Linked DNA regions of Homo sapiens: region 1 is linked to region 2. The links come from fine-mapping of genetic effects on plasma protein levels. A gene starts in region 2. The other region holds a variant in brackets. All regions are shown on one strand. Distances are between the middles of the regions.

Region 1 (4,382 bases), 30 kb before region 2:
CCTTTTTTGCTTTGGCCACCATGAAGCTCAGATCAGAATTTGCAGCTCACTCCAAGCAATTCTGTAGCACTGGGTTCTAATTTTACCTTGTGCCCTTTAACAAATGCCACCTTTATTTTCTCTTTTTTCTTATTTCTTTCATATTTTTATCTTACTATTTATCTAAGCCACCTCAAGTCCTTTTTGGAGTGGGGCAGGTGGGTAAATAAAAAAGAAGTGTATGTTTTTGAGGGATTTCTCTGGCAGGCCCAGTGCTGAGCTCCTCACACAAGTCATTAAATTATTCCCCAATGACCCTGAGAGTAAGGCTATAATTTTCTTCATTTCCTGGGAGGAAACAGAGACTCTGAGTGACTGTCTCAGAGCCACACAGCGGAGCCCCGACTTTACCCAGGGCCAGCATGCCCACAGAGCAGGCTTGGTCCCCTCCCCCAGCCTTACCCACCAGGTCCAGGCAGGCTCACACCTGGATGGTCACGGAGACATTGCCCTCCTCCTCCTGGACGAAGATGTTGTAGGAGCCGCTAACCACGGGTGCATTGTCGTTGATGTCCAGCAGGTGGATCTGCAGTGTGGTGGAGGAGGACAGGTTCCCGCCGTCTGTGGCCTGCAGCGTCAGGTAGTACACGGCCTGGCTCTCCCGGTCCAGCAGCTCACCGTTCCTCACCGTCACCGTCCCTGAGACGGGATCCACTTGGAAGAGGTCTGCCCTGCTCAGAGGGGCCAGGTTCAGCAAATAGAGACACAGGATGCCCATTTCAGTGTGAATTTCAGATATACAACAACAAATATTTCAGCATATCCCATGCAGTATATGCAACATATTCATTATTTCAAAAAGTCATTCCTTGTTTATCTGAAATTGAAATGTAACTGAGTGCCTTCGGTCTTCCCCAGCTATTCTATCTCTGCAGAGAGGCAGAGAGGTGGGCCTGGGCCCTGCTCACCCACCTGCCTACGGCCCACCCTGAGCCCTTACCCATTTCCTGGGAGCAGGCTGTAGGTAATTTGGCCCCACGCGCCCGTGTCTGGGTCCGTGGCCTGTGAGGCAGAGACATGGCAGGGTGCTGTGTGGAGGCGATGCACGCACCGCCACCCATGCAGCTCGTGGGGACAGAGCTGTCGTGCTTCCTCACACAAAGGGAGAATCCCCAGCACACTCAGATTCACTCATGGCCACCCCCATCTCACACATACACACACACACACTCTCACACTCACACATGCACGCCCGCTTGCTGGGACCCCACAGCCCCACTGTGTCCACATCACTCACGTGGATGCTGTCGGTGACCACAGAGCCGGTGGCGCTGTGCTCTGGCACCGTGAGGACGTACAAGCTCTGGGGAAACGTGGGCCTGTGGTCATTAATGTCTCTAAGGTGGATGGTCACCATGGCGACGGAGAAGTTCTGGCTGACGGAGTCTGTGGCCACAACCTGGGGGCAGGGGAGGAGGCAGCAGCTGTGGGGCCCAAGTGCCCCTCGGCTTCTGCCCCTGGCACCCCGGAGCAGCCCTCACCTGCACCGCCATCGCCGTCTGCCTCTCGTAGTCCACCAGCGCGGATACTCTCACCAGCACCTGAACGGAGGCTGAGCCCACTGCCCGCTCCGGGGAGACGCTGAAGGCTTCTGCATCGGGGCCCCCCAGCGACAACAGGAAGGTGCCATTGCTGCCCTGTAAAGGTGGGCTGTCTAGCAGGGACCTGTCCCCCTGCTCTGCCCACCTGCATCTTCCCCCAGTCCCCAGGCTTCTATCTCTGGATGCCCCGCCCGATGAGGTCCCATGGAAGGGGGCTCTCAAAAGACTGCGAGAGAGGGTGCAGGAGGCTGGGCTGGTCACCAGTCCCTGCAAATGCAGGCTCTGTAGAAGACAGCTCCCTAGGCACTGTGGGTCCCAGACCTGGGCTGGAGCCTGGACACACACCCCTCACTCCTGTCAGCTGTCCCTCCCACCCACCCTTCACATCCCCCACCCCCAGCCCCCACAGCAACACCAAACACCACTCACACCCTACGTCACCCCACTGGCCAGTGCCACCCTTCTGGCCAACCTAACCCCACCCGACACTGTCCTCCACGCAACATTTCCAACCCCTCAGTATCACCTAACACCATACACCCTCCAGAGTTACTCATCCTCCAGCGCCACCGTGTTACCCACCTCTCACTGCAGCCTCCACTTAAGAGTGCCTCCCATGGCTGGGCGCGGTGGCTCACGCCTGCAATCCCAGCACTTTGGGAGGCCAAGGTAGGTGGATCACTTGAGGTCAGGAGTTCAAGACCAACCTGGCCAACATGGTGAAACTCCATCTCTACTAAAAACACAAAAATTAGCTGGGCGAGGTGGTGCACACCTGTAATCACAGCTACTTGGGAGGCTGAGGCAGGAGAATCCCTTCCACCTGGGAGGCAGAGGTTGCAGTGGGCCAAGATTGGGCCATTGCACTCCAGCCTGGGTGACAGAGCGAAATTCCATCTCAAAAAAAAAAAAAAAGAGCACCCTCCCACCTCACACCCTCAGACCACTTGTCCCAACACTGCTCAGCCTCCCCCAGTTCCCAGGACTACCCAAATCATGGCCGCCCAATGCCAGGAGACCTCGCCAGCCACCCATCACCAC[G/A]GACAATGATGTTCTACTCAGCATCATCTGACGTTCTACGTCAGCCTCCACTCAGCATGGCCTTCTATTCAGCCCCACACGGATCGCCCAGAGGATGATACTGCTTACCAACACAGGCTTCCAGAGAGCACCCAGCACCCCCATTCTCCGCCATCACACCCTGCACCACCAGCACCGCCACCCAGCACCACATGACACCGTCACTCGATCCAGGCTCCCACTGGCCTCCCCCAGCCACCCCCGCCCACACCCACGCCACCACGCCTGCCTTGTCCGGGTCGTAGACCACCATGGTGAGGTCATCGATGGGGATGCGGGGGGAGGCATGCTCGTCCACGTAGCCAGTGAAGTTCACTTGGGCCTCTTCGGGGGTGAAGGTGCAGGCTGGGAGGCTGCAGTTGTAAAACTCAGGTTTGTGGTCATTGACGTCCATCACTCTCACTGTCACCCAGATGCTCACCTTGGCCTCCTGCCCGTAGATGTTGAGGTGTGTCTCGGTGGCCTGAGGCACAGAGCAGAGGGCAGAGGGCAGAGAGCCAGTGCTCAGAGAGAGAGATCAAAGGCCAGAGGTTAGAGAGCAGGGTTCTGACAGGGGTGGTGGGGCCTTTGCTCACCGTGACCTGCAGCTGCACCTCCTCATCCGCCTCCAGCAGCTGCTCACGGTCCAGGGAGCCGTTGACCCTGATCACCCCATCTGCCCCGATGTCAAACCAGCCGGGCCGCGTGGAGTCTGGCAAGGAGAAAGGCGGAACAGCTGGAACAGCTGCTCCAGTGGCTCTGACGGAGCCCCAGGCCCATTGCCTCCAGGGACTCTGACGGAGACCCCACCCTGGCCCCGGCCCAGCCCTGGCCTGGGGACACCCCGTTCTCACAGGAGATGCTGTAGATCACAGGGTCATTGATGCCTTTGTCGCCATCCACAGCCTCCACCGTCAGCACCGAGGTTCCCTGGAATGGGGCCTGGTCAGTGCTCCTCAAACTTCCCCGCCTCCCGCCTCCACCCACACCCCACAGGTCCCCCGTGCACCTTGGCTGCATCCTCAGCCACAGAGGCCGAGTAAAACTCCCTGACAAACTGGGGGTCAAGGTCAGGCTGGTCCACCACGGAGATGGACAGGAAGACAGGCAGGGAGCACTGGATGGTGAAGGTGTTGTGGTACATGCCGCCCAAGTCCTGCGGGGAGATGGCCACCCGTGAGCCAGCGCCGTGGGTCCTAGGCCCGCCTGCCGGCACCCCCACTCACACAGGCCTTCAGCTCCAGCTGGTAGAAAGCGCTCTTGTTGTTGTAGCTGAGGCTGCCATTGAGGACTATGGAGCCATTGGCCAGGATCCGGAAGAGATGCTCGCTGTCCCCAGTGCTAGGGATGACCTGGGGCAGAGCAGACTTGGGTCAGGCTCCCTAGGGACAGCCCTGCACCGAGGACCCCACTCTGAGCAACGCAGGGAAGGTCCCAGCTCTGCCACTGACCAGTCACGCCACTGGCACCAGGTCATATGACCTCTCTGAGCCTCAGTTTCCAGCTCCAGGAAATGGGGCTGGTGACAACCCTCAGTGGGTTGAAAGGAGGATCCAATAAGATGCAGTCGGCCCTCCATCTCTGTGGCTTCCACATCCACAGATTTGACCAGCACAGATCAAAACTGTAGCTAGGCTCACTCACAATGGTTGCGTCTGTACTGAAGGTGTACAAACTTTTTCCCTTGCCATGATTCCCTAAACAATATAGCATAACATGCTATAGTTACATAGTATTTGCATT
Region 2 (4,373 bases):
CCCAAGCTTGCCTTGGCTCTAGGGATCCCCCCAACCCCCACATTTCTCTGGCCCAGAGACCCCCGATGAGCTGGATAGTCCCTACCTGTGTCCCCTTCGCCACGGAGGCGGCAGGCAGGCGCCGGACAGGCGCTGGCACACAGGTGGGCACCCTCTGCGGCCTGCAGCTATGTGGCCAGCAGACTTTGGCACCATCTCCACCTCCACTGAGCAATCATTAACCCTGCCAGAGACCACACCTCCCAGGAGGGGTCGACTCCTAATGAGGCAGAGTACAGCTGGGGGCGCCGGACAGGAGGAAGGGACCAAGGCGCCAGAGCTCCTGGCGCTCCTGGGGCTGGAGGCCCACACCACAGGAGAAGGGGCCTGGCCGACCCTGAGCCCAGAGGACCTGGGAACAAGGCCCAACACTGGGGCAGGCTGGAGGCGGGGACGGTGACAGTCAGAAGGTGATGCCAGAGCCCCCGTCCCCTCCCTGCTACGAGTCTTCAGTGACAGGGGATCTGTGGACAAGTGGGGGATTGAGTCAGGAGAGGGAAGTGGTAAAACAGTGTAACAATCAAACACTGTGTGGCCAGACCAGCCCCTGTGAGGTTCTCGTGGAGGACTGGGGGCTAGCTGAGCCTGGACAACCCACTTTCGAGCCTGTTGACACTGATCTCACCCCGCATTGAGACCCTCAAAAGGCATCTGCCCGTCCCCAGGGGCTTCATCCACTCCCAAGTTGCCTTTTTTTTTTAATTATTTATTTATTTTTGAGTCAGAGTCTTGCTCTGTCACCCAGGCTGGAGTGAAGTGGCACAATCTTGGCTCACTGCAATCTCTGCTTCCTGGGTTCAAGCAATTCTCCTACCTCAGCCTCTCGAGTAACTGGGATTACAGGCGTGGGCCTCCACACCCGGCTAATTTTTTTTGTATTTTTAGTAGAAACAGGGTTTCACCATGTTGGCCAGGCTGGTCTCGAACTCCTAACCTCAGGCGATCCGCCTGCCTCGGCCTTCCAAAATGCTGGGATTACAGGGATGAGCCACGGAGCTCGGCCCCCAGGCTGGCTTTAAGCGCTGCCCGATGTGGTGGCCTCCCGAAGGGGCTCAGCCACAAGTCCTTCTTATCCTCACTTTGGCCCAGCCATCACAGTTGACACAGAAAGGGGACCCTGGGCACAACTTTCTTAAGGCACACCACTGAGTCGTCACCATTGGGTGGCCCTCTTCTTGTGGGCAGAGGACATGTCTAATTCACAATAGATATATAGTCATGCACCATATATCTGTGTTTTGGTCAACAACGAACCACACATATAATAGCGGTCCCATAAGAGTATAATATCATCTTTCATGGCACCCTTTCTGTGTTTACATGCACAAATACTTACCCCTGTGTTACAGTTGCCTGCAGCGTGCGGTACAGTCCCAGGCTGCATAGGTTAGCAGCCCAGGAGCACAGGCGGTGGTATAGAGACTGGGTGTGTAGTAGGTGGTACCGCCTAGGTTTGTGTAAGTCACTGTGTGATGTTCACACAATGACGAAATTGCCTGATGACACATTTCCCAGAAGGTGTCCCCGTTGTTAAGGGTTGTGTTGACTGTATATCAGGCAGTTGCTATAGTCAGGCATTTTAATAGTTTGCTTCCCAACTCTCCAAATGTAAAACATAGTAACAAAATTTATACGCCACCAGCATAAAAAGAAGAAACCCAGATGAAGGGAAGTCAAGTGAGAAAAATAAGGGTAATCTACGCCTGAATTGAGGCCATAAAATACTTGTCTTGAGCTGGGGGCACTGCTGTGCACCTGTAGTCCCAGCTACTTGGGAGGCTGCAGCAGTAGGATGGCTTGAGGCCAGGATTTCTGTGCTGTAGGGCACTATGCTGATGGGGTGTCCACACTAAATTCAGCACTAATATGGTGAACCCCAAGGAGCAGAGGACCACTAGGTTGCCTCAGAAAGGCTGAACCAGCCCAGGTCAGAAACAGAGCAGGTCAAACTTCAGGTGCTGATCAGTAGTGAGACTGTGCCTATGAATAGCTACTGCACTCCAGCCTAGACAACAAGAGCTTCTCTCTCAAAAAATAAACAAATTATATATATATATATATTTGCCTTCAAGTTCTGGGTAATTGTAGAGATGGGTCATGAATCAGGTTCTGAGCTTCCCCCCAGGCAAAGAAAAAAGGGAATTGAGATCCATTGAGTCCAGCATCCATCCATTTTAAAACATTTGCATAGGCTGGTGGCTCGCGCCTGTAATCCCAGCACTTTGGGAGGCTGAGGCGGGTGGATCACCAGGTCAAGAATTCGAGACCAGCCTGGCCAAAATGGTAAAACCCTGTCTCTGCTAAAAATACAAAAAATAGCTGTGCACGGTGGCAGGTGCCTGTAATCTCAGCTACTCAGGAGGCTGAGGCAGGAGATTCACTTGAACCCGGGAGGCAGAGGTTGCAGTGAGCCAAGATTGTCCCACTGCACTCTAGCCTGGGTGACAGAGCAAGACTCCATCTCAAAAAAAAAAAAAAAGACCAAAAAGACCACTTTGCGTATAGCCAGGCTCTGGGAGCTATGATGCAGTTCTGAGTTTTGATACCCAAGAGGCTTTTCCTCTTTTTGAGAAGTGTTTCTGAGGAAAGGATGCTGCAGACACTGGGTAGCGCTCGATGCGACTATTACAATGCAGGGGTTAAGAGACCAGAGACCAGGCTCCTCTGGGGTCAGACTGCTGGGTTCAATTTTTTTTTTTTTTTTTTTTTTTTTTTGAGCACCATGTTGGCCAGGCTGGTTTCAAACTCCTGACCTCAGGTGACCCACCCGTGTCGGCCTCCCAAAGTACTAGGATTACAGGTGTGAGCCGCCCTGCCCAGCCACAATTTTTAATTTCATTTTATTTTTATTATTTTTTTTATCTACTGTATATTCACAATGGGTTCAATTTTGGCAGGGCAAGTTGCATAACCTCTCTAAGACGGTTTCCTTATCTGTAAGTTGCAGGTAATACATGATGCCTACCTGGGCAGGTGATGGTGAGGATGTAATGAAGTCACCCATTTGAAGTCCTGAGCACAATGCCCAACACAATAAGGTCTCAATGAATGTTAGTTTTCGTGGGGGCATGGTGGTGACTATTGCATTACTAATATCACCTCATTTAATCCTGCCAATAACTCCAGGGATGATTTTTTTCCCCATTACAGATGGGAAAATAGACCTTAGACAGATTAGATCACCACCCGAGATTACAGAAAGTGGCAGAACTGAGATATTAGCATATCTGTGCAACAATTCTTGCCCCTGACTTTCCTGCCACAGCCGTCAGATTCCTCTCTGAAGGAAGTAGGCACTAGTCATCGCTGGTGGCTTAACCAGTAAGAAGAGAGGCAGGTGACCCCACCCAAGGCTCCAGGCTCCCCGCTCTGCCTCAGACCATGGGAGTCAGCCTGGTCGCTCTGCTGTGCCCCAAATAGGGCAGACCCCAACCCAAGCCCCTGCCCCCTCTCCCTGCCCTTACGGCTGAGGCCGACAGCTCTGAGTCACTGCTCTGGTTGACAGAGGTGTGTCCTGGCCTGCCCAGACCTTTGGACCCATCACGATGAGGCACGTGTGGCCAGATGGTGCCCTGCCCATCTCGAGGGGCACCATCCACCTGCCACAAGGCAGCCTGGGAAGCACACAGGGATCTGGGCTATGACGATCCAGGTCCAGGTCTAGGTCCAGGGTTGGCTTCACGGAGCAGCAGGCAGCCAGGCAGAGTGGGACTAAGAGCCCAGGATATGGACTCAAGTGACCTGGGTCCTAATCCCCACCACCACTTACCTGCTGGGGGCTTGGGCAAGGTACACCACCTCCCACACTATTGGTGTCCTTGTCCAAAATGGGCCTAATGCAGACTCCACCTCATAGGCCTGTTCTAAGGAGTAATGATGTAATGCATGACAGCACTTAGCACAGAGTAAGTAATGGGGTGATGTGCACGAGGCGACAGTTTAGATACACATCAGGGTTCCTTCACAGCCACTGTCTGAAGTGTGTGCCTTAAAATTTTTTTTAATCAGAAAAACTTCTCGGCCGAGTGCGGTGGCTCACGCCTGTAATCCCAACACTTTTGGGACACTGAGGCAGGCAGATCACTTCAGGCCAGGAGTCCAAGACCAGCCTGGCCAACATGGTGAAACGTAGAACATGGTGAAACCCCATCTCTACTAAAAATACAAAACTTAGCCCAGCGTGGTGGCGTGCACCTGTAGTGCCAGCTGCTCAGGAGGCTGAGGCACAAGAATCGCTTGAACCTGGAGGTGGGGTGGGGGGAGATTGCAGTGAGCCGAGATTGCACCACTACACTCCTGCCTGGGTGACAGAGTGAGACTCTGTCCCCACCCCC

Direction of the effects. Alleles are on the strand shown, and positions count from the first base shown. The strength of an association depends on the size of the effect and on how common the allele is.
For the plasma level of the protein whose gene starts at base 158 in region 2, G is the high allele of the variant in region 1 and A is the other (weak association).

What was found. A credible set is the group of variants that fine-mapping cannot tell apart. PIP is the posterior inclusion probability: the model's chance that the variant is causal. The UK Biobank Pharma Proteomics Project read protein levels with antibody pairs (Olink). The fine-mapping took linkage between variants from a reference panel, not from the people measured, so its PIPs are less certain.
Region 1: its variant is the best candidate, but not a certain one, in a credible set for the plasma level of the CDHR2 protein (UK Biobank, PIP 0.72).

What each region holds. Positions count from the first base shown.
Region 1 is chr5:176,574,693-176,579,074 of GRCh38, reverse strand. CDHR2 (cadherin related family member 2) reads right to left here. Exons shown (of 32, transcript NM_017675.6): 8 at 3,866-3,991; 9 at 3,649-3,795; 10 at 3,494-3,569; 11 at 3,236-3,351; 12 at 2,890-3,123; 13 at 1,521-1,676; 14 at 1,277-1,438; 15 at 980-1,041; 16 at 467-710. Among named protein-coding and RNA genes, the nearest start is that of CDHR2, 28 kb to the right of the region's middle. RefSeq lists a silencer at 353-647. The variant G/A (reference allele first, on the strand shown) is at 2,622.
Region 2 is chr5:176,545,127-176,549,499 of GRCh38, reverse strand. CDHR2 (cadherin related family member 2) reads right to left here and starts at 158. Exons shown (of 32, transcript NM_017675.6): 1 at 86-158. It also overlaps the pseudogene RN7SL684P.